3 linked regions of the Homo sapiens genome follow. The protein of the gene in region 2 interacts with the protein of the main gene of each other region in a pairwise test. Each region holds a gene or a part of one and is shown on either strand. Other genes may lie near its edges.

Region 1 (7,357 bases), on a different chromosome or scaffold from region 2:
CACAAAGTAGGCATTACTGTGATACCTATTTTACAAATGAGAAAACCAGACTCAGAGAGATTAAGTCATGTATACAGGGTCACAGAGCTTTTAGGTATAGATCCCTAATTAAAATTAGACCTCTCTGGCTCCCTCACTCTTCATACTCGTAGCTTTCTGTAAGAGGCAGGCTTGTCCGAGCCCTTCTTGAAGCCCAATTGCTAAGATGCACTCAGGACAGTGAAGGTTTTCCTGGTCTCTGCTGGAAGAGTGCCAGTTGGGACCTCCTGGTCAACAAATGTGACAAGAGTCCTGGGTGCAGGAGGGGTGGTGGCTAGGTTGGGAGAGGGGAGGGAAAGGTTGGGGGGATGGGGTCCCAAGAGTCCAAGCACAGCACCTGAATTCAGGTATGTGCCTTCTGCCTTCTCCTAAACCAGGTTGGCTGCAGCCTCTGTTGCTACACTTGGGGCATGGAGCTGGTTTTGAGAGGAGCTGAGCCCCAGTTTTCCCATCTGCAAAATGGGAATCAGTAATGCCTACTTCACGGGGTTGTGAGGATTCTGTGAGGCCATCACACATAGGCCTAGTTTCCAAAGGGCTCAAATGGGCTCTGCAGAAAGGAGAAAGGTTCTGGCTTTAAGGAAAAACCACCTGCCTACATCAGTATCCTCTTAGCCCTGTGGCTCAAGCTCCTGAAATGACTTAACAGCTAGATTAGAATTTAACCTCCACTCCGTCAATTACCAGGGAGAGCAAAGTCTGAGTGGGCACAGGGCCTTGCCTACCGTGTCTTTCTAGGCCATGGATGATCTGGAGAGCACAGATGGCACGGGGCCCTTGACACATGAACCACAGAGCCACTAATGAGTGTCACGGTGGTAGGAGACCAAAAGAGGGGAAAGAAGACATTACAGAGGCTGGGAAGAGCTGGAGCCAGGAAGGTTCCAGGACAGGGGAACACTGTTAGGTAGACCCCAGTAGACAAGTAGGCACAGAGTTGACAGTCCAGGGTGGCCTGGTTGACATCTTGCCCCCAGCATCCTGGGGACTCAGCCAGGAAGATGGGATTTGGGTGACAGGTGGGAGAGAAGGGCATGGGAGATTTGTGTGGGAAGGGCCGTGTGAGCAGGCAGCCGGCTGGAAGGATTTGCTGGCCCCCACCGGCCTCCTGCAAGCTGGCTTTTTATGACAGAGCTGGGGGAGGAAGATGTGGAAACTCCCCCAGCCCCTGCAGAACCACCCACCAGGGCTCCACTTCTGCACCTGTCTAAGAGAGACACGCCCCACTCAAAGCCAATCCCGAGGGCGGCCAGTATTGGCCAAGGAGTGTTCATCCTCCCGCTCTGCTGCACCCAGCCTCTCCCTCATCTCCCCACAGCCTGGCGGCTGTTAGCCCCGTATCTTAGAGGCAGTTGAGACTCCAGAAGCCAAGTACCTTGCCCACGAGTAGACAGCTAGTCGCTGGCTGGGCTAAGAAGCTTTATTACCAGCCTTGGAGGAGGCCTCCTAGATGGACGGTTTTTCTCCGGTGCTTCACCAGCCGCAGGAAATGGCAGGGTACACAGGGAAGTACCCCTGCGGACTGAGGCCGCCATCGGCAGGCCCTTTCCAGGGAGAGCCCTGCGGGAAAGGGCGCCTGTACCTCCGGGCCCCGGGTCCTCCACAGAGGGTGATTCAGAGGCGGCACCTGGTGTCCAGAGCCGCGGAGAGCTGGGGGGCTCTTCTGACAGTGAAAACAGGGGCCCTTTATGTGAAATGCAATCACATGGGCGCGCAGGCAGCTCGGTTTTCGGTTCCTAGAAGCGCTGATGAAGCCACATCCCTCTCCCTCCGCTCCTGAGGTGCCCGGGAGCACCGGGACCCAGGCCTGGCGCGCGGCAGCGGCGCAGCCCTGGGGTCTCAGGAGGGCCAGATTCAAAGCTCTCCCAGGCTCAATTATCCTCCAAGGGCTGGGAGCTGCATCATCAGCATCTCCAGTGAAGCTGGAGGCCGGGCCGGGGTGGGGGAGCGGAGGAAGGGAGTCTACATGGGGGAAGGAGGAGGGCAGCGAGCGCCTGCCTCCCGGCTCTCCACCCGGGGCGGTCTGGGCAGCTCAGCCTGGGCACTCCGGGTGACCTTGGGGAGACCCCTCTGGGCGACCTCTCAGGGGCGGCTGCACGTCTCCGCCCATCCTCGGCGCCCGGGGGCGCTCCTCTGGGCCGGAATCGATGAGCCGGAGTCGCCCAGAGGGGAGCGCTCCTGGCGCGGGGGACCCAGCCGCCGGCGCACGGGGCCCTGGGAGAGGCCGGGCGCGCCCCTCCCGGGGAACTACCACTCGCGGGGTCTCCCCGGGCTGGCTGGTGCTGTCAGCCGGATCCTGAGGCGGGGCGGGTCTGCAGGTGGAGGCGCCTGCCTTGGGGATCTTTCCCGCCCGGGCAGGAGCGCTCTCTGCGCCCTGCCGCTGCCCGCCAGGACCAAGCCCCGCCACGCGAGGGGGCGGCACCACCATGCCCGGCCGGGAGAGTGCGCGGGGGGGGGTTGTTTGGTGTCCGCTGTGGCTCCCGCCGCCCGGCATTGCACCCCCGGCAGACGGCGGCCCCATGAGTCCAGAACAGACCGAGGACCCCACCTCCCCGCCCCAAGATCGGTCTACGACGGCCGCAGCCAACAACCTGCCAATGCGCCCCCTCCCCTGGCCTCGTCAAGGAATTGCGAGGCCGGGGAGAACGCCCCCATTCCAGCCCGACTCCCGGACCTAGCGCTCTCGGTACCCGTCTTTCCAGAGTCCCCACACTCCCATTTATCTCAAGCTATCGTCCCTTGGCCAAAGCGCCCCGGCCCCCAGCTAGGTGATAGCAGGCTGGGACCACCTCCCCGCCCCATCCTCATCCCCCGCCCTGCGAAGCCGCAGAGCGCAAGGAGGGTGGTGGCGCCGCCGGGGAACTCACCCGCTCTCCCGAGCCCTGCCCCGGGCGGCTCCCGACCCCGGCTGTGTCTGTGGGTCCCCGAGCCGCAGCTGCTCCAGCGGCGACAGAGCTGGCTCTGCTCGGCCGCGAGCCTCCGCGCCGCCTCTCGGCTCCTCCCCCAAGGCGGGGCCTGAGCTCCTGGGACTGGGGTGGGCGCGCTCAACCCCATCCGGCTTGGGAGGCAGCGCGGGACAGGGTCCCGGCGCTCTCGGGTGGGGACCCCTCTTCTGAGCTGCAGGAAGTTGAAACCGGTTGGGACGTGGCCAGGCTTCGGAATAGTTTTCCTAACGCTGCCCCCTCCTCCAAAATAGTTTTCCTAACCCCCACCCCGACCATGGAAAGAGGGAAGCCAAGGACGGTATCCCTGCTCCCATTTGACAGACGGGAATCCTGAAGCCCAGAGAGGAGTGGTAACCTGCTCAAGGTCACACAGAATGAATGCCAGGGCCAGGAACTCAGGGTTCCTAGCTTGAAGGCCTGCGCGGCCTGAGTCTGAAGGCTTCCCAGGAGGTCCAGGGGCCGGCCCTGGCCTTGCGCTGGGGACAGATCTGTGGGGCCAGGTCCCCCAGCTGCTGGGGCCGAGACATGGGGGCTGTGGCCTGCGGTGTGGACTCGCATCATTTCCTCTTTCTGGAAAGAAGGGAGGTGAAGCGCTGGAGGAAGGAAGTGGTCGTACCTCTGCTGACGTCTGACGCCCTTTGAGATGTGCAGGATGAAGATAGGGGCTGCTTCCCTGAGATTTAACGCTAAAAATAAAAAGCAAAACATACCCGGTGGCTTCTGTCACCTCATTCAAGCCTCTTTCTGGGGCTGAAGGCCTCTGCACTCTGTGCACCAGCCTTTCTTTACAACACAATGGGTTTAACTATTTAAGTTGCTGAGAGTCACCCCCCACCATCACCACCCCAGGAAGAGAAAAGAAAGTTCATAAACAAAGCAGAGAAAACCTCCCCAAACATTCTCTGGAATCCACATTTGCTGAACCCTGGCCTTAGAACAATAGGTTTCTCTTCTCCACAAAGGCCTTGTTTCCTGAGCTTTCCCGGCCTACAGATGAGAGCCCTAGGCACCCCAGGGCCAGCCAGCTGGGGAAATTCAGAGTTTAAGTTTGGGGAGTTTGGGGATGGTACCCAGTTAATTTGATTCTCAGCTGTCATGTTTGAGGAACTCGCCCGAATCCTTTTTTTTTCACTGGCAATATTCTTTTGAGGCCACCAGCATCACCTGAGTTTAGTGATTTTCTGTTTGCTCAGTCACCTTTCTTGGGGGAGAGAAAATCTGTGGGTTGAACTTGTTCCAGGCCCCCAGGCCCTCTCCAGGAACTCTGTAAGCCCCCTTCATTGGCTCCCTGGCTCCCTCTCAGTTCATTAATAATCCAGTTGTGAATGACACTGTTTCAGGAAAAGCAATTAGACAGTAGAGCATGTGGGGAAGACTTAAAGCCATGTTTAAAATAACCCAAGGGAATCATTGTTCTCCGAAGAATGTTTCCATTGATTGATAATGAAGAGCCATGGGCTGAGAGGATGGGAACCCATCTCTCCAAGGCTTGTGTGGCACTTGGGGCCTGTGTTCCTAAAATAAGGCCTTTGGAGGGAGGGGGCTCCCAACTCCAATGTCATGCTGTTCATTCACCTCTCACACTGTGTTCGGTATCAAAAGTTAAAGTAAATTCAGAATAAGTTGGGGGACTCACAAGTCCTGATTTCAAAACTTACTAGGAAACTTCAGTCATCAAGGCAGGGTGGTACGGGTATAAGGATGGGCATACAGACCAATGGAATAAAACTGAGAGTCCAGACAGAAGCCCTTACACTTACTGCCAATTGATTTTCAACAAGAGTGCCAAGACAATTTAATGGGGAAAGAATAGTGTTTTCAAAAAATGGTGCTGGGACAACTGGATATCCACATGCAAAAGAATGAATTTGGATCCCTGCTTCATACTATATGCAACATATAGATCTAAATGTAAGAGCTAAAACTATAAAACTCTCTGAAGAAAACATAAGCCTAAATCTTCATGACTTTGGATTAAACAGTAGTTGCTTAGATATTAGCACAAGCAACAAAAGAAAAAAAAATAGATAAATTAAAAACTTTTGTGCTTTCAGGGGTATCATCAAGAAAGTGAAAAGTTATGGCTGGGCCTGGTGGCTCACACCTATAATCCCAGCATTTTGGGAGGTGGAGATAGGAGGATTACTTGAGGCCAGGAGCTCAAGACCAGCCAGGGCAACATAGTGAAACTCTGTCTCTACAAATTCTTTTAAAATTAGGCAGACGTAGTGGTTCATGATTGTAGTCCTAGCTATTTAAGAGGATTGCTTTTGCCTAGGAGTTCAAGGCTGCAGTGAGCTATGATGGTGCTACTGTACTCCCGCCTGGGTGACAGAGCAAGACCCTGTCTCTAAAAAAAAAAAAAAAAAAAAATTAAACATAAAAAGAACAAAAAGAGAGTGAAAAAATAACTGTTATAAGCTGAATTGTGTGCCCCCTCACCCCCATTCATATGCTGAACTGTACTGGTTACAGTCTCAGAACCTCAGAATGTAACTGTGGATGGAGATAAGGTCTTTAAAGAGGTGATCATCTTAAACTGAGGCCCTTGGATGGGGCCCTCATCCAATGACTGGTGTCCTCATAAGAAGAGACACTAGAGATGCGCCACACAGAGGAAAGACCAGAGGAAGGCACAGGGAGAAGAAGGTTAATTACAAACCAAGGAGAGAGGACTCAGGGCTGGGGGACCAGACCTGCCAACACCTTGATCTCAGAATTGTAGCCTTCAGAATTGTGAGGAATAAATTTCTGGGGGTTTGTTTTGTTTTGTTTTTTTGACATAGAGTTTCACTCTGCTGCCCAGGGTGGAGTGCAGTGGCACGATCTTGGCTTACTGCAACCTCCACCTCCCAGGTTCAAGCGATTCTCCTGCCTCAGCCTCCTGAGAAGCTGGGATTACAGGTGCATGCCCCCACGCTCGGCTAATTTTTGTATTTTTAGTAGAGTAAGGGTTTCACCATGTTGGCCAGGCTGGTCTCAAACTCCTGACCTCAAGTGATCCACCCACCTCGGCCTCCCAAAGTGCTGGGATTACAGGTGTGAGCCACCGCACCCAGCCAATTTCTGTTGTTTAAGCCACCCAGTCTATAGTATTATGTTATGGCAGCCTTGGCAAAATAATACAATATCCCACAGAACGGGAGGAAATATTTGCAAATCATATTCCTGGTAAGGGACTTATATCTAGAATATATAAGGAACTCTTACAACTCTATAATAAAGAGACAAATAATAAAAAATGGGCAAGGAGCCTGGGCAACATGGCAAAACCCTGACTCTACTAAAAATACAAAAAGTTAACTGGGCATGATGGCATGGGCCTGTAGTCCCAGCTACTGGGGAGGCTGAGGTGGGAGGATTGTTTGAACCTGGGAGGCAGAGGTTGCGGTGAACCAAGATCACACCACTGCACTCCAGCCTGGGCGACAGAGCGAGACCCAGTCTCAAAAAAAAAAAAAAAAAAAAAAAAAAAAAAAAAGGCCAAGGGATCTGGATAGACATTTCTTCAAAGAAGATAGATATACACATGGCCAAGATGCTCAACATCATTAGCAATGAAGGAAATGCAAAGCCACAATGAGATACCACTTCATACCCACTAAGATGGTTATAATAAAAAAGATAGGCAATAACCAGCATTGGTAAGGATATGGAGAAATTGGATCCTTCATACATTGCTGGTGGAAATGTAAAATGGTGCCGCTGCTTTGAAAACCAGTATGGCATTTCCTCAAAATTTAAAACATAGAGTTGCCAGATGACCCAGCAATTCTACTCCTAGGTATATACTCAGGAGAAATAAAAGCATACATACACAAAAATTTGTACACAAATGTTCATAGTAGCATTATTCACAACAGCTAAAAAGTGGAAACAAGGCCGGGCGCGGTGGCTCACGCCTGTAATCCCAGCACTTTGGGAGGCCGAGGCGGGCGGATCACGAGGTCAGGAGATCGAGACCATCCCGGCTAAAACGGTGAAACCCCGTCTCTACTAAAAATACAAAAAATTAGCCGGGCGTAGTGGCGGGCGCCTGTAGTCCCAGCTACTTGGGAGGCTGAGGCAGGAGAATGGCGTGAACACGGGAGGCGGAGCTTGCAGTGAGCCGAGATCCCGCCACTGCACTCCAGCCTGGGCGACAGAGCGAGACTCCGTCTCAAAAAAAAAAAAAAAAAAAAAAGTGGAAACAATCCAAATATCCATCAAATGATAATGGATAAATAAAACACGGTACAATCCACTATTACTTGGCAATCAAAATGAATGAAGCACATGCCACAACGTGAATGAACCTTGAAAACCTTGTGCTGAGTGAAAGAAGCCAGTTCCAAGGCCATACACATATTATATGATTGTATTTATAGGAAATG
Region 2 (7,021 bases):
ATCTACCATCCTAGCCTGTGCGAAACAGCTATATAAAGACAAAGAATTTGGCTCCATGGTCTTGGAGGTAAATAAGATTGTTCTTACTCTACAAATAACTTAAGAGACTCCAGTCTCTTAATTTCAGTTCTGCTGGTTTTATTTTACTTTAAAAGTAAGTTGCCCCACGGACAGTTAGGAAAGAAGTAAATTTGAATATTTTAATTCCCTTTTTCCTATAATGGTCATTTTGGTCTGGATTAGCGTTGGTCAGCTAGAGGGCAGTTGTAGGGTTTGGCACCTTTTTCTTTGCTCTTGCCAACTTCTCCCCAAACCTTACTTTATGGTGACTTGGTTGCTGCCTGTCTGCCATGGCCCCTCTAGATCAATTCTCCACGTTTCTCCACCATATTCCTGCCTGGAAGGCTGAGCCCTACTGACTATAAGCTCACTTACCCTCTGGCTCCTGGTTGGGTTTGGCCAATAGGGGCCTTGGCAGGGGTGGGGGAAGGAAGTGAGTGATGCCTGGGCCTTCCCTGGGGGCTGACACAGGCTGGCAGCATGGCCCACCTGTAGGGTACATCTCACAGGTGGTACCTTTCCTGCAGCCCTCTCCAGGTGCCTACAGCCACTCCCTTCACTAAGCCCTTCAGGCTCAAGGGTGACAGGTATTGCATAGCCCCATGGTTTTCCTATATCACACCTTTAAAAAGATCTTGTTTAATTCTCTTCAAATTGCTGCATTTGAGTATGCCATCTGTATATTGCTGGGACCTTGACTAATATACTTAGATTCAAAAATCTGAGTATTGTCTATTGCAAGAAAAGTTTAACTTACTTTTTAGACGCAGGTCTCAGAACTTTGCTGCTACTAATGTCCTTATTTCAGTTTATTAAGAACTTGGTAACTTAGGATTGTGGTAGCTGAAATTTGTATCATTCTGCTCATACCAGAGGTGCTGTTCAGTGTAACCATACCAATTAATTATTTCTCCAATTTATGTCAGTCATTGTCCTCAAAGGGTGGGGGTAATATAGCCATCTTTATTAATTTAGTGAATTTTGTGTAAAACTGATTTTTTATTTTATGATGATCTCTTAGCCATCATTAGACATAGAGAGCTAGCCTGCTGAGCTGGACTGATGAGGAAATACACTAACACCAAGAACTCACAGATAGCACAGCAACATGGTTTTTGTTTTGTCTTCTGTCTTCCACATTTAGCTGAATGCTTCAGATGACCGAGGAATAGACATCATTCGAGGACCGATCCTGAGCTTTGCTAGCACAAGGACAATATTTAAGTAAGAATTATTTGTGTAATTTCGCTCCCTTGATTTTGATTAGTAAGATGATATGGGTTAATTTTTTAATCCTCTCCTTAGCCAGTTTATATGGGTTGAAAAAAAAAGTGACTTTGTCCAAAGCAACCATGGAAAAGAGATAAACGAGAGGGATGGTAGTAAGAAGCGTTATAATGCAACTGTTAAAATAAAATGTTATCTACGCTTGTATTAGCAAGTTTGTTTTTTTTTTCTTTTTTTTTTGGAGACAGGGTCGCCCTGTATCGTACAGGCTGGAGTGCAGTAGCATGATCTCGGCTCACTGCAACCTCCACCTCCTGGGTTCAAGCGATCTTCCAGCCTCAGCCTCCTAAGTAGCTGGGACTACAGTCGTGAGCCATCACGCCCAACTAATTTTTGTATTTTTTAGTAGACATGGGGTTTTGCCATGTTGCCTAGGCTGGTCTCGAACTCCTGAGCTCAAGCAATCTGCCCGCCGCAGCCTCCCAAACTGCTGGGATTACATACGTGAGCCCAGCCTGCATTACCAAGTTCTTTAGGGAGCATTAACTTCATTTTTAGTTCCTGAGAACTGGCTAGATTACCCTAAGACTGGATGAGCTAGTTTGAATTTAAAAATAAATTGAGATCAGGAAGGACAACTAGGATGGTGGCTAAAAAAAAAAAAAGAAAGAAAGAAAAAGGGTGAGGGCCGGGCGCAGTGGCTCACACCTGTAATCCTAGGACTTTGGGAGGCCTAGGCAGGTGGATCACCTGAGATCAAGGGTTCAAGACCAGCATGGCCAACATAGTGAAACCTCGTCTCTACTAAAAATACAAAAATTATCTGGGCATGGTGGTGGGCGCCTGTAATCCCAGCCACTCAGGAGGCTGAGGCAGGAGAATCGCTTGAACCCAGGAGGCAGAGGTTGCAGCGAGCCAAGATCGCGGCACTGCACTCCAGCCTGGGCAACAGAGCAAAAACTTAGTCTCAAAAAAAGCAAAAGGGTGAGGGACTCAGGCATGAGTGAGGGAGACGGGAAAAGCAGTAGCATGGTAGGGTGCCATGTGGAGGAAAGTGAAGATGCCAGAGGACACAGCGCACAGAAGTAGAGAAGTCTCCTCCATTCCCACCAAGGGTTGAAGGAGTGATGCGGCATTTCCTCTCTGAGTGACCAAAGATGTCTGCCTTGGCCAAAGTTCTAGAAGAAATTGTCTTTCTGAGACAGGGCCCGATGGCACAATGGGAAGATATAGGTTTGAGCCCAGATGTTGAGATGAGATTGAAGAAATCTTTAGACAGCACCATTTGTTTTTCTAGGAAAGGCTTTAAGCTAGTGATCTTGGATGAAGCAGACGCCATGACTCAGGACGCCCAGAATGCCTTGAGAAGAGGTAAGCAGAGGCACTGTGGAGCGTTTGGGCTGGTGTGCACACTGGAAGGAGAATTAGGAACTTTGTGTTTGTTGCTGTTGTCATTGTTTTTTTAGGCGGGGGGGAGTTTTTTTTTCTTTTTTTGAGTCAGAGTCTTGCTCTGTCACCCAGGTTGGAGTGCAGTGGCGCAATCTTGGCTCACTGCAGCCTCTGCCTCCTGGGTTCAAGCGATTCTCTGACCTCAGCCTCTTGAGTAGCTGGGATTACAGGCATGCACCACCACACCCGGCTGATTTTTATATTTTTAGTAGAGATGGGGTTTCACCATGTTGGCCAGGCTGGTCTCGACCTCCTGACCTTGGGTGATCCGCCCGCCTCGGCTTCCCAAAGTGCTGGGATTACAGGAGAATTAGGAACTTTAAGCTTCCCAAAGTGCTGGGATTACAGGAGAATTAGGATGTGAGATATGGCTTGGCTTGTTTTCAGTTTTCATCTTCTGGCCCAGAGAAATCTCTATGCCTTTCTCTGTGTCTCCCATCTAATGACACAGGCTAGATACCTCTGTAGCGGGACTTCCCCTTCAGCAGCCTAGGGACTAAGCCCTGCGGGGACTTTTAAGTCTGGCCAGTCACTGGTGTTCAACCTCCTTTGACACTGGGTTCAATTTCAGAGTTGGGAATTCATATCTTTCCGTGGGATGGGGTGTGGAAAATCTTTCATCCTTAAGCTATCAGATAGTCCTTCTGCTAATAGTACCCTCTCCTTTCTACTAATGGTACCCTTTGAACCACAATGGCTAGGAAAAGCATATCTGAAGTTGAGGTGCTCAGAGAGCTGATATTACTTCACTGCTTGCCAAGTGAATGATTTGGCAGCGGGAGGGACAGCACCCTGCGATTTGTCTGTCTTCAGGGGCCTAGCGCAGTTCTTTTCTCTTAAAGGACACTTGTCATCTCTCATTAAGATTCCAAGTGAATCAGCTTTGAGAGAAGAACGATCTTTAGGAGTTTGTGGCGAGGGAGTAGATGGCAGCACATGTTAAGAGAAGGATGGGGGAAGGGGGAGGAGGAGGAGGGGGGAGGAGGGGAGGAAGAGGAGGGGGTGAGGAGGAGGAGGGGGAGGAGAAGGCGGAGGAGGAGGGTAGGGGGAGGTGGAGGAGGAGAGGTGGGGGAGGAGGAGGAGGAGGAGGACAGCGAGAATATCTTCTGGTCCTAGAAGCTTGGCAGCCTTTCTTCGGCATCTTGTTCTGCCGAGTGACTGTCATTCTGGGCAGATCCCCATGTGAGAACATTGGGTACCTACAGAATGGAACCGGTGTCATAAGCAACTCTTTGTTCGGGTTATTGCTCCCTTGAGTGCTCTAAGGCCTCCAGACAGTCTCCATGGAAAAGTCTGCAAAAAGCCGCCCTCCCTGCCCATAGAAGGTGAAGTGTCATCAACCTGCCAAATATAATTTTATGTAAAAGGACAAGAAGTCTCATAGTCTTAATGGGATTACATGGCAAAAGTGCCAGAATCATGGCAAATGGTAAAAAGGAAGCATTTTGTAAAATCCCACGGAGGCATGTTTACCAGTTTGTGAAAGAGGGGTGGCTAGGCAGGGCGCAGTGGCTCACACCTGTAATCCCAGTACTTTGGGAGGCTGAGGCAGGCATATCACCTGAGGTCAGGAGTTCGAGACCAGCCTGGCTAACCGATGAAACCCCATCTCTACTAAAAATACAAAAATTGGCCTGGCACAGTGGCTCATGCCTGTAATCCCAAAGGCCAAGGCGGGCGAATCATGAGGTCAGGAGATCGAGACCATCCTGGCTAACATGGTGAAACCCCGTCTCTACTAAAAATATAAAAAATTAGCCGGGCGTGGTGGCACGTGTCTGTAGTCCCAGCTACTCAGGAGGCTGAGGCAGGAGAATCGCTTTAATCCGGGAGGCAGAGGTTGCAGGGAGCCAAGATCGTGCCATTGCACTCCAGCCTGGGCAACAGAGCGAGACTCTGTTTCAAAAAAGAAAAAAGAGGAGTGGCTAATCTCTGATCTGAACAGGCCAGCACTGCCCTGTCTTGTCATAGGCTGCAGCCTCACTTGTTTACATTCTTTCTTTTTTGAGACAGAGTCTCACTCTGTTGCCCACGCTGGAGTGCAGTGGAATGATTTTGGGTCACTGCAACCTCCACCTCCCGGATTCAAGCAATTCTCCTGCCTCAGCCTCCCAAGTAGCTGGGATTACAGGCATGTGCCACCACACCTGGCTAAATTTTGTATTTTCAGTAGAGGTTTTGCCATGTTGGCCAAACCTCCTGACCTCAAGTGATCCTCCCGCCTCAGCCTCCCAAAGTGCTGGGATTACAGACGTGAGCCACTAAGCCACTACGCCCGGCCAACATCCTCACTTGTTTGCAGTATTGAATCTTTTCCTATACCCTTGTGACCACAGAAAAATTCAAGTTTTCTGGGCTCTCTGAAAAATCAGAATGGACTTTGACATGAGGTGGTTTTATTTTCTCTTACTAGTAATTGAGAAATTCACAGAAAATACCAGATTCTGCCTCATCTGTAACTATCTGTCAAAGATCATCCCTGCCTTGCAGTCCCGCTGCACGAGGTTTCGGTTCGGTCCCCTGACTCCTGAACTCATGGTTCCCCGCCTGGAACATGTCGTGGAAGAAGAGAAGTGAGTATTTTGCGGGCCTTTGGGGATGGAGTGTAGTAGAAACAGGCTTGTGGGATCACTGGCTGGTTCGTATGTAGAGGAGAGGAATGTTGGAAAACGACTTTGCAGAGTGCCTAGCACAGGGGAGGCACTGGGGACCGTCCACTGCTATCATTTTCTCTGCTGTCTCAAGGCCATTCCTCATAAAAGTCATTTGGTACTTCATTTTTCTTGATTCCATCCTCCTCCCCTGGAAGCTGTCCCAATTTCCTCCTACTCTTCTTTGTCATTGGAAACTGCAGGCTGCTGAGTCCCTTCTGCAAAGATGCTTCCAGCCTTTTTAGACTAGAAGGGAAGGTTCTAAGACATCACATTCTGTGTAGTCAGATGCCAAGCAAGTAGCCGACCTGAGCAGCTGCTTGTTGTGAAGGAGGAGTTTCGGCTGTGTGATCATGGCTTGTGCCAGGCCTCTGTCCTCCCCAGAGAGCAGAATTCAAGACGACTGGCTCCATGGGAGAATGCTTGTTCCTAAATTCAGGCTGTTCTCGATTTTGGTTGGCTGTGACTACTAATGTGAAGCCCAGGTCCCTAAAAACCAGAGTGAATTCTAGATCATATAGATCAGGAGATTATTAACTCTGTTCCTCTCCTTCCTTCATCCCTTTAAAGCCTTAATCATTCCAGGCCATCTTGTTCCTTTGGTGAATGCTGGTGCTCTCAGGGGGCCTCATAAATCCCTTTTGCTTATTTCTTTCAGAGTTGATATAAGTGAAGATGGAATGAAAGCACTAGTCACTCTTTCCAGTGGAGACATGCGTAGGGCTCTGAACATTTTGCAGGTATGGTCTCAAGCAAATCCTTTTTTTTTTTTTTTTTTGAGACAGAGTCTTGCTCTGTCGCTCAGGCTGGAGTGCAGCAACACAATCTCAGCTCACTGCAACCTCCGCCTCCTGGGTTCAAGCGAATCTCCTGCCTCCTGAGCAGCTGGGATTACAGGTGCCCGCCACCACGCCCTACTAATTTTTGTATTTTTAGTAGAGATGGGGTTTCGCCATGTTGGTTAGGCTGGTCTCGAACTCCTGACCTCAAATGATCCATCTGCCTCAGCTTCCTAAAGTGCTGGGATTACAGGCATGAGCCACCATGCCCAGCCTGGTCCCAGCAAATCCTGAGTCATTGTTTTGTAATAGTTTTTGAAGAAAGACCTAAGCAAAGGCATGATCAATCTGTAAATTTTGAAATCTACAGCTGGTAAGACCTTGGTCTCATAACCTGCAGGATTCCCCCTCCTCACTTTGTATTTTGATTAATTGAAAAAATCACTTGTTGCAGGCCAGGTATGGTGGCTCACGCCTGTAATCCCAGCACTTAGGGATGCCGAGGGAGGTGGATTGCCTGAGCCCACGAGCTGGAGACCAGCCTGGGCAACATAGTGAGACTCTGTCTCCACTAAAAAATCATGAGCCAGGTGTGGCGGTGCACACCTGTAGTCCCATCTACTCAGGAGGCTGAGGCAGGAGGGTGACTTGAGCCTAGGAGGTCGAGGCTACAGTGAGCCATGATCATGCCACTGCACTTCAGCCTGAGCAACAGAGCAAGACCCTGTCTCAAAAAACAAAGAGAGAGCAAAAGAAAATGTTTTAAAAACAAAAGGAATCATTTGTTGCAAAGAAGGCAAAGGGAGGGAAGGATTTGGCACTGGAATAGCCAACAGGCTGTGGCATCCTCTGATG
Region 3 (7,336 bases), on a different chromosome or scaffold from region 2:
TACGTGACATTGACCCCAACTCCAAGTCCAACCCCTGGAAGCAGCCAAAACTGAGGCCCTGTGCATGCTGGTGGCCTCAGGGACCCTCATAACCCCCAGACTCAGAGCCCGAGAGCCCTTCCCAAGCCATTGGCTTGGCTGCAGAGTAGACTGAGAGCTGGGGCCACGTATCCCTGTGCTGGCACCTGCTCCCTGTGCTCAGTATTAATTACGCCCCCTTAACTGTCCCAGTGACCTTGTCCAGACCTCCACCCAGGAGAGGGATGGGACACAGCACTGGGCTGCCAGGATTCCCCTGGCCCGTCTGGGCCAACCCTTCCATGGGTGAAGACAAGCAAGTCCCCCTGGAGGCGGGTGGCCCAGAAAGCCATCTACAGGGTTCCCTAGGCCAGGTGGAGATGAGGATGGGTAACAGTATTGGGGCCAGATCCCTAAGCCCCCCAGCTGTAAATAGGCTGTGGCCAGTGCCTGGTCATCAGAAGAGGGAGGAGGAGCCCAGGCGTCTGTTTATGTATTTATTTATTTATTTATTATACCTATTAATAAAAAAGGTGCTCAGCCTCCAAACCATTTTCTCTTTGTGTTCCCCCACCCTCCCACCCTCCCACCCACCTCTCTCCCTTCCAAAAGGATGGCTGGGATAGGATGAAAAGGGAAGGGAACTTGATGTCCAGTGGCCTAAGCCAAGAGCTGCTTCTGGAAGGTGCTGAGGCCCAGAGCATCATGGGTGAGATGGCCAAATGTGTGGCCAAACTGGAACTTATACCCTGTGTGGCCAAGAGAGTCTGTCACATGTAGCAAGTGGCATGGCAAAGCCATTTAATTCTCAGCCAGTTGGCTAGACCTCCAAACAGCCCTCTAAAATCTGGCCCTAATTCCCCACTGTGGGTAGCTACCTCGGTTTCCTTTTCTGCCTGATAATAAAGCTGAACCACATGATCTGAGCCCTCCCATATCTATTAGTTTCAACCCCCACAAACCACCCAACCCACCCCATACCCATACAAACAAACATTCCAGTCCCCAAAGCCTCCCCGGGGGCTCTTCTCACCTGGCACGTAGCCCCCATAGTTAGGTAAAAGACCCAGGTTCTGAGGGTATGTTCTGGGAAGTGGGGGGAGATGTTTGGGGTCCTGGGCACTGCCTGGTGAGTGCTTCTGCCCAAATTCCTGCAGTGCCTGGTTGGTGAGCACAGGAAAGCTGGAGCCGAAGAGGAAGCGGGCGCAGGGCACATAGCCAGTGAAGCCTGAGGATGGGGACACTGAGCCAAGGCATCCTGGGGCCTCCCCACGCCTCTGATCCTGACCCCCCAGCTCTCACCTGACATGAAGAACTTCCGAGGGTCCCTGTCATCCATGGAGTAGGGAGAAGCCTGTGAGAGAAGCCCCTGTGCTGTCACACAATCTCCCAAGGAGGTGGAGCTGACAATCAAGTGCACATCCCCTGAACCCACAGCCACACTACTCATGCTGCCCCCACTGCCCGGACACACAGTAAGACCCCCACTCCCACACCTCTGCACTCCCCACCAGCTTCTTGGTCTCACTTGTTCCACCACCTCCAGTGTCGGCTCCTCCAGCTGCCCCTCCGGCTCTGGCACCTGGTCCTTCTCTGTGTCCTTTCTTCCCTTGGCCTCCTTTGGTAGCTCTTCACTCCCTTGCTTTTCATGCAAGTGAGTAAAGTCACTCAGAGCCTCGGCCCAGACCTGGCTGCAGTTCTTGGCAAAGATGAACTGTGCCCGGGGTACAAAACCTGGGCAGGCAGGGACAAGGAAGACTCGTTAGTGTTTGGAACACATGCTCCTGGGAGGGGCACCTGTGCATACCTGCGTACAAACCTGTGTACCCAGGGATCATGCTGGAGCTGAGCCTTTCTTGCCCACGCCTGACAGGTAGACTCTCCCTGGGAACCTCAGGAGATCTTGGAGGCCGAATGGGAGGCAGAAGTGTGCGGTGGACAGGGGGCCAGGCTAGGCCAGGAGGGCCTCGAAGTAGCTGACCAGTCACCTGCCCATAGGTCTGGCCCACGCTGAACCGAAGTAGTGGGCAGTGTCCAGTGTACCTGCAGCACAGACTCTCCCACTCACCAGAATCGCCCTGCCCCGCCATCCCCAGAGGCAGAAGCGGAGACCTCTGAAGCCCTGATCTTTCTGGACTCAGCAGTGTATATATTTGGAGCAGGCATTTCTAAGTTCTCTGCCTGGGCTTTCGATCCTTCCTCTGCTGTTACCCTGTTCCCATGGAGAGAACAACACAAAGCTTTGGGGCAGACCCGGTGTCTCACTAGTCCCTTGCTTCTCCTTTTCCATCCACCACCATAGAGACCTCAGCCTCCCAAACCAACCTGTCCGCTTGGCCCCATGCTCTAAGCAGCTTAATTCCTCCACCCTATACCCCTACTCCCAGCAGCAAGCGGGGAGCGCTAAGTGGGAGTCTTACCCTGGGATATAATGAGGGTTCTGAGGGTTGAGCCCTGGTATGAAGGTGCTGGCCACAGCCATGGGGAGCCGGGCATTTCCTTTTGTTTGCCTTTGAGCCAAGGCTCTGGTCTGTGTGTACCGTGTCCAGGGCTGTGGGGCTAGAGGAAGGAGGCGGGGCTAAGGGAGGAGAGAAGGGAGGGGGCACTCGTGTGAGGACAGCCAGGGCGAAGGCCGGCAGAACTGTAGAGCAGAGGCTAGCAGGTCTGTCTGTCCAGGACAAAGGTGGTCCTGCTCGTGGGGCAGGGCCCGAACCGAAGGAAGCCCTGAGGTGGGACGTGGGAGGTGGGACGTGGGAGGTGAGGGAGCAGAAACCATTCGGGCCACTGAGCTCTGTCTCAGCGACTTCCTTCCTGAGCGCCTGCCTGAGAGGTGGACACTGTGTTCCTCATGAGTCTTCATCAAAGGAGATGGGGGACCTGGAGAAAGGATCTTTGAGGGAAGCCAGGGCCCAGAGGGGAGGTGAAAGAGGACAGGTGATGGGGGAAAAAAAGGAACCTAGACACCTCTAGGGAGTAACATCGTTTATTTTCAATAATTTAACAAGAGTGGCTTACTGAATACCTGCTATAATCAGAGTCATCCATTCAACAAATGAGCCAGGCTCTGCCAGGCTCCGGCCACAGTGGCCGAGTGTGCACTCCATGGGAGCCAGAAAAGCTGTGGGGGTTGAGGGAAGGAAACAGGATAAAGTTGTTGTAGGTGTGGGCGGTAACACTAGGGAGCAAGTTAGAATTTGTTAAAAAAATAAAATAAAATAAAAAATTCGGATTCTAAGAGAAGAAAAAGCACAGACCAGGAAGATGAGATCTCAGAGGACGGGGAAACATGTTTAAAACCCAACTCTGGGCCGGGTGCAGCCACGCTCACATCAACGTACTGAGGAGGCTGAGGTGGGAGGATCACTTGGGTCCGGGAGTTTCAGTCCAAACTGGGCAACACAGCCAGACCCCACCTCAAAAAACAAAACAAAACAAAAAGTTCTGGGGCTGGGTCAGGGCCAGGCTGAGGGCTCAGGGCCCACGTTTCTGAGGCAGAGCTCTGCTCTTCTCCCCACCTCCAGTGACCATGCCTGCGCTGACCAAGGACGGCACTGACATCCCAGGGGAATTACATAAGAGCACTGGGCTCCAAGGCACACATTTCATGTTCCTCACTGTTCTGCCAAGGACAGCCTTAGAATGTGTCATTTAGAGTTGTGGGGACTTACCTCACAGCTGAGGAAATATGTTAGAGTGAGGATGGGAGCCGAGGGGCAAGCCCAGAATAGCAGCAGTGTGTCAAGCTTAACAACCAGACTTGGGATTCTGTGACAGACACTATCACAGCTTATACCTATTCCTGACCCCCATCTCCTTTCTTCCGAGGAGCCAGAAACTGCATCAGGGAGGCTTGGAGAGCCAGCCTGGAGGAATGAGCTGGATTAGTCTAAGCGTGGTCCCATGCTCCTTCCCCATGACCGCTTAGGCACGGGCTTCCAGCATTCTGGATAATATGAGGGGAAATCTGCTGGGGCAGGGGAGGGTCCTGGGAAAAGTTTCTTTGCTCTTAAAGAAAAGATTCACATCAAATTAGAGCAAGTGAGAGAGACAGAGATGCGCAAGACGAAACGATGTCCATTCCTGCCCCTAGACTTTTGGGGGATGTGAGGCTGGAATGCTGGCAGGCATGTGGAAGCCTTGTGGAAAGCTAACCTGAAGACAAGTCCTGGACACATCAAGGATGGATGGTAGAGGAGAAAGGCCAGGGTCCTGAGGGTAATGTAGAGCCATGGAATTAATCAGCCTTTTTATGTCAAATAGTAAATTTCATTATTAAGGCCACTTTAAGTTTTCTTTCACTTACAGCCAAAGGCATCATAACTTTAAAAAACAAAACAGCCAGGCACGGTGGCTCACACCCTTAATCCCAGCACTTTGGGAGGCCGAGGCAGGAGGATCACAAGGTCATGAGTTCGAGACCAGCCTGGCCAACATAGTGAAATCCTGTCTCTACTAAAAATACAAAAATTAGCCAAGCGTGGTGGTGGGCACCTGTAGTCCCAGCTACTCAGGAGGTTGAGGCAGGAGAATCACATGAACCCAGGAGGTGGAGCTTGCAGTGAGCTGAGATCGCACATTGCACTCCAGCTTGGGCAACAGAGTGAGACTCCGTCTCAAAAACAAAACAAAACAAAAAAACACCACTAGATCAAATCCTAGCTTCACCAGAGATATAGACTTTGTCCAAATTCATCTCATTGAGCCTCAGTTTTCTCATCTGTAAAATGGAAAAACTAATGTTACCATCTCATAGAGTAGGATATCAGCTAGCTGAGATGATACACAATGAGCAATGACCCCAGCGTCTAGCTTACGGTAAGTGCTAACTAAACAGCAATTCACGGCTAGCATTTGGCAGGAATGGGAGGAAGGAAAGGAGCTGGGAGCAGTCACAGATGTTAGAGGTTCAGGGGAAAGGTTCATGAAATTGAAAAAGGGAAAGGTTTGAATGGAAGTTGGGGTATAAATTAGGATGTAGGGACTAGAACACATTCTGCAGAAAAGACCATGGCAGTTAGAATCCGGGTATGCGTTAAAACACAAGTTAGGAAACAGATTAGGATTAGTCTTAGGTTTATGGCTTATGAAGAAACAGCTCTATCCAATTGGTAGAATGGCCTGTTACTATGATTGTTTCCATCTGAATAAAGAATATTTCTAGATCCCTGAAGGGTGTTCTAATCTGAGAAAGGAGTGACGGGGCCAGCTGAGGCACCACAGGAATGCTTGCTGCCTCTGTGCCTCCTTCCAGGGACAGACATCACAGAAACATGACCACAACTTGCTCTGATGGGAGCTGCCACACCCAGTGGCCAGTGTTGGATGTGGCAGTGGAGAGAAAATGTTTAACTGGAGACAGCGCCCCACTCAGTCCACACAGCCTGCTGGGTCCCCACAATGGCAGCCTATAGCCTTCTGTTCTGCCTTTGATTCTGACCAGGAACTGCTATAAAATTTCATACAGATCCCAAATCAATCATTTGATTGTATGTCAACCCTAGGCAAGCATAAATCCCCTCTGCAAGGATGAATAAAAGAAAATCACAGGACCTTTGAAAAAATTCCTGAAATCAACAGTCCACCAAAATTGAAACAAGAATTGAATAAACTCCAAAAGATTACATGCAACACAAAACCTTTTTTAGTTTGAAAAATACATGCAGATGCATAAAACTGCATAAAAAGGAAAGCAAGGGAATGATAAAAATGGGTTTCAAATGCTCACCTCAGATGGTGAGAAACAAAAGGGGTGGGAAAGGGGGAACCACATAGTTAGATGTATGTTATTGTCAAAGTTTCAGTTTTTGTTTGGGATGATGTTTTCAAAAATGCTTATAATGGGCCAGGTGCAGTGTCTCATGCCTGTAATCCCAACACCTGGGGAGGCCAAGGTGGGCAGATTACTTGAGGTCAGGAATTCGAGACCAGCCTGGCCAATATGGCAAAACCCCATCTCTACTAAACATACAAAAATTAGCCAGGTGTGGTGGCACACACCTGTAATCCCAGCTACTTGGGAGGCTGAGGCAGAAGAATCACTTGAACCAGGAGGCAGAGGTTGCAGTGAGCCGAGATCATGCCACTGCACTCCAGCCTGGGTGACAGAGCATGACTCTGTATCAAAAAAAAAAAAATGCTTATAATGCATACATTATAACAAAGTATGAACTAATGATGAGAATGTGCCAAACCAAAGATTATGACAATTGAAATCTATGCTTTTGAGGTCCAAAGAGGTGTGGTGGAGGGAATCCAAGTAGAAATGACAAGGAATCATGGTATTTGGAGGGATCGAAGGAAAGGAAATGGCCTGGTCTCTATTCTACCTTTTTCTACCTTTTTGGTTTTTTTCTTTTTTTGAGATAGGGTCTCACTCTGTCACCTAAGCTGGAGTGCAGTGGCATAATCTCAGCTCACTACAACCTTCGCTTCCTGGGCTCAAGTGATCCTCCCACCTCAGCCTCCAGAGTAGCTGGGACTACAGGTGCATGCCACCACACCCGGCTAATTTTTGTATTTTTTTTTTTTTATAGAGATAGGGTTTCACCATGTCCAAGCTGGTCTTGAACTCCTGGGTTAAAGCGATCCACCCTCCTCAGCCTCCCAAAGTGCTGGAATTACAGGCGTGAGCCACCGCACCTGGCCTGGATTTTTTATGTATATAACACTCCTCAAATCCACAAGGATCAATATTCATTTATTCAGCCTACTTATTAAATATTTCTACTAGGCAGTTGCCTTATAGATCAATACAGACAATGCCTGACCTCAGTGATCGAACCACTTTAAAGAAGAGACAGAGGTACAGAGAAAGGCAGAATAAAATAAATACCACAATGAAGATCTAAACAAAAACAACTGATCTTATAATAGGCCATGAAGAAAAATCTCAAAAATTCCAAGAAGCACAATAAACCACATTTCCTCACACAAACACAATTTTAAAATTTTAAAATAGGCTAAACAAACAACCAACCTAACACTTAGACATTTAAAAATACTCCCTTGAGCTGGGCGTGGTGGTGCATTCCTGTAATCCCAGCTGCTTGGGAAGCTGAGGCGGGAGGATGGCTTGAGCCCAGAAATTTGAAGCTGTAGGGCGGCGCTATGATCACATCTGTGAATAGCCACTGCACTCCAGCCCAGGCAACACAGTGAGACCCTGTCTCTTAAAGAAATAAAAATTAAAATTAAAAAAAAAACAAAAACACCTTAACCCTTGGGGCAAAGAAAAAATTCCAGTTATACACAATTATTTATAAATAAATGAGAATTCAATCAAAGATGAATTCAGAGGCAACTTTTAGCCTCAAACACA

What was found. The genes of interacting proteins can lie anywhere in the genome.
Region 1: the proteins of RFC5 (region 2) and PPP1R16B interact in binary tests that used the Homo sapiens proteins (3 or more experiments, as listed by UniProt).
Region 3: the proteins of RFC5 (region 2) and CIMIP2B interact in binary tests that used the Homo sapiens proteins (3 or more experiments, as listed by UniProt).

The regions. Positions count from the first base shown.
Region 1 is NC_000020.11:38,801,342-38,808,698, reverse strand, and holds the start of PPP1R16B (protein phosphatase 1 regulatory inhibitor subunit 16B isoform 1 precursor), read right to left. Parts: upstream 3,003-7,357; 5' UTR 2,907-3,002; intron 1-2,906. UniProt on the Homo sapiens protein: Regulator of protein phosphatase 1 (PP1) that acts as a positive regulator of pulmonary endothelial cell (EC) barrier function. Involved in the regulation of the PI3K/AKT signaling pathway, angiogenesis and endothelial cell proliferation.
Region 2 is NC_000012.12:118,019,702-118,026,722, forward strand, and holds part of RFC5 (replication factor C subunit 5), read left to right. Parts: coding exon 1-67; intron 68-1,204; coding exon 1,205-1,284; intron 1,285-2,584; coding exon 2,585-2,658; intron 2,659-5,149; coding exon 5,150-5,309; exon of another isoform or gene 5,310-5,313; intron 5,314-6,045; coding exon 6,046-6,127; intron 6,128-7,021. UniProt on the Homo sapiens protein: Subunit of the replication factor C (RFC) complex which acts during elongation of primed DNA templates by DNA polymerases delta and epsilon, and is necessary for ATP-dependent loading of proliferating cell nuclear antigen (PCNA) onto primed DNA.
Region 3 is NC_000009.12:35,561,329-35,568,664, forward strand, and holds CIMIP2B (ciliary microtubule inner protein 2B), read right to left. Parts: upstream 2,551-7,336; 5' UTR 2,501-2,550; coding exon 2,439-2,500; intron 2,231-2,438; exon of another isoform or gene 2,109-2,230; coding exon of another isoform or gene 2,062-2,108; coding exon 1,838-2,061; intron 1,753-1,837; coding exon 1,547-1,752; coding exon of another isoform or gene 1,515-1,546; intron 1,373-1,514; coding exon 1,321-1,372; intron 1,247-1,320; coding exon 1,052-1,246; intron 768-1,051; coding exon 679-767; coding exon of another isoform or gene 540-678; 3' UTR 503-539; downstream 1-502. Other genes in the region: AP-4 complex accessory subunit RUSC2, read left to right, coding at 1-54. UniProt on the Homo sapiens protein: Microtubule inner protein (MIP) part of the dynein-decorated doublet microtubules (DMTs) in cilia axoneme, which is required for motile cilia beating.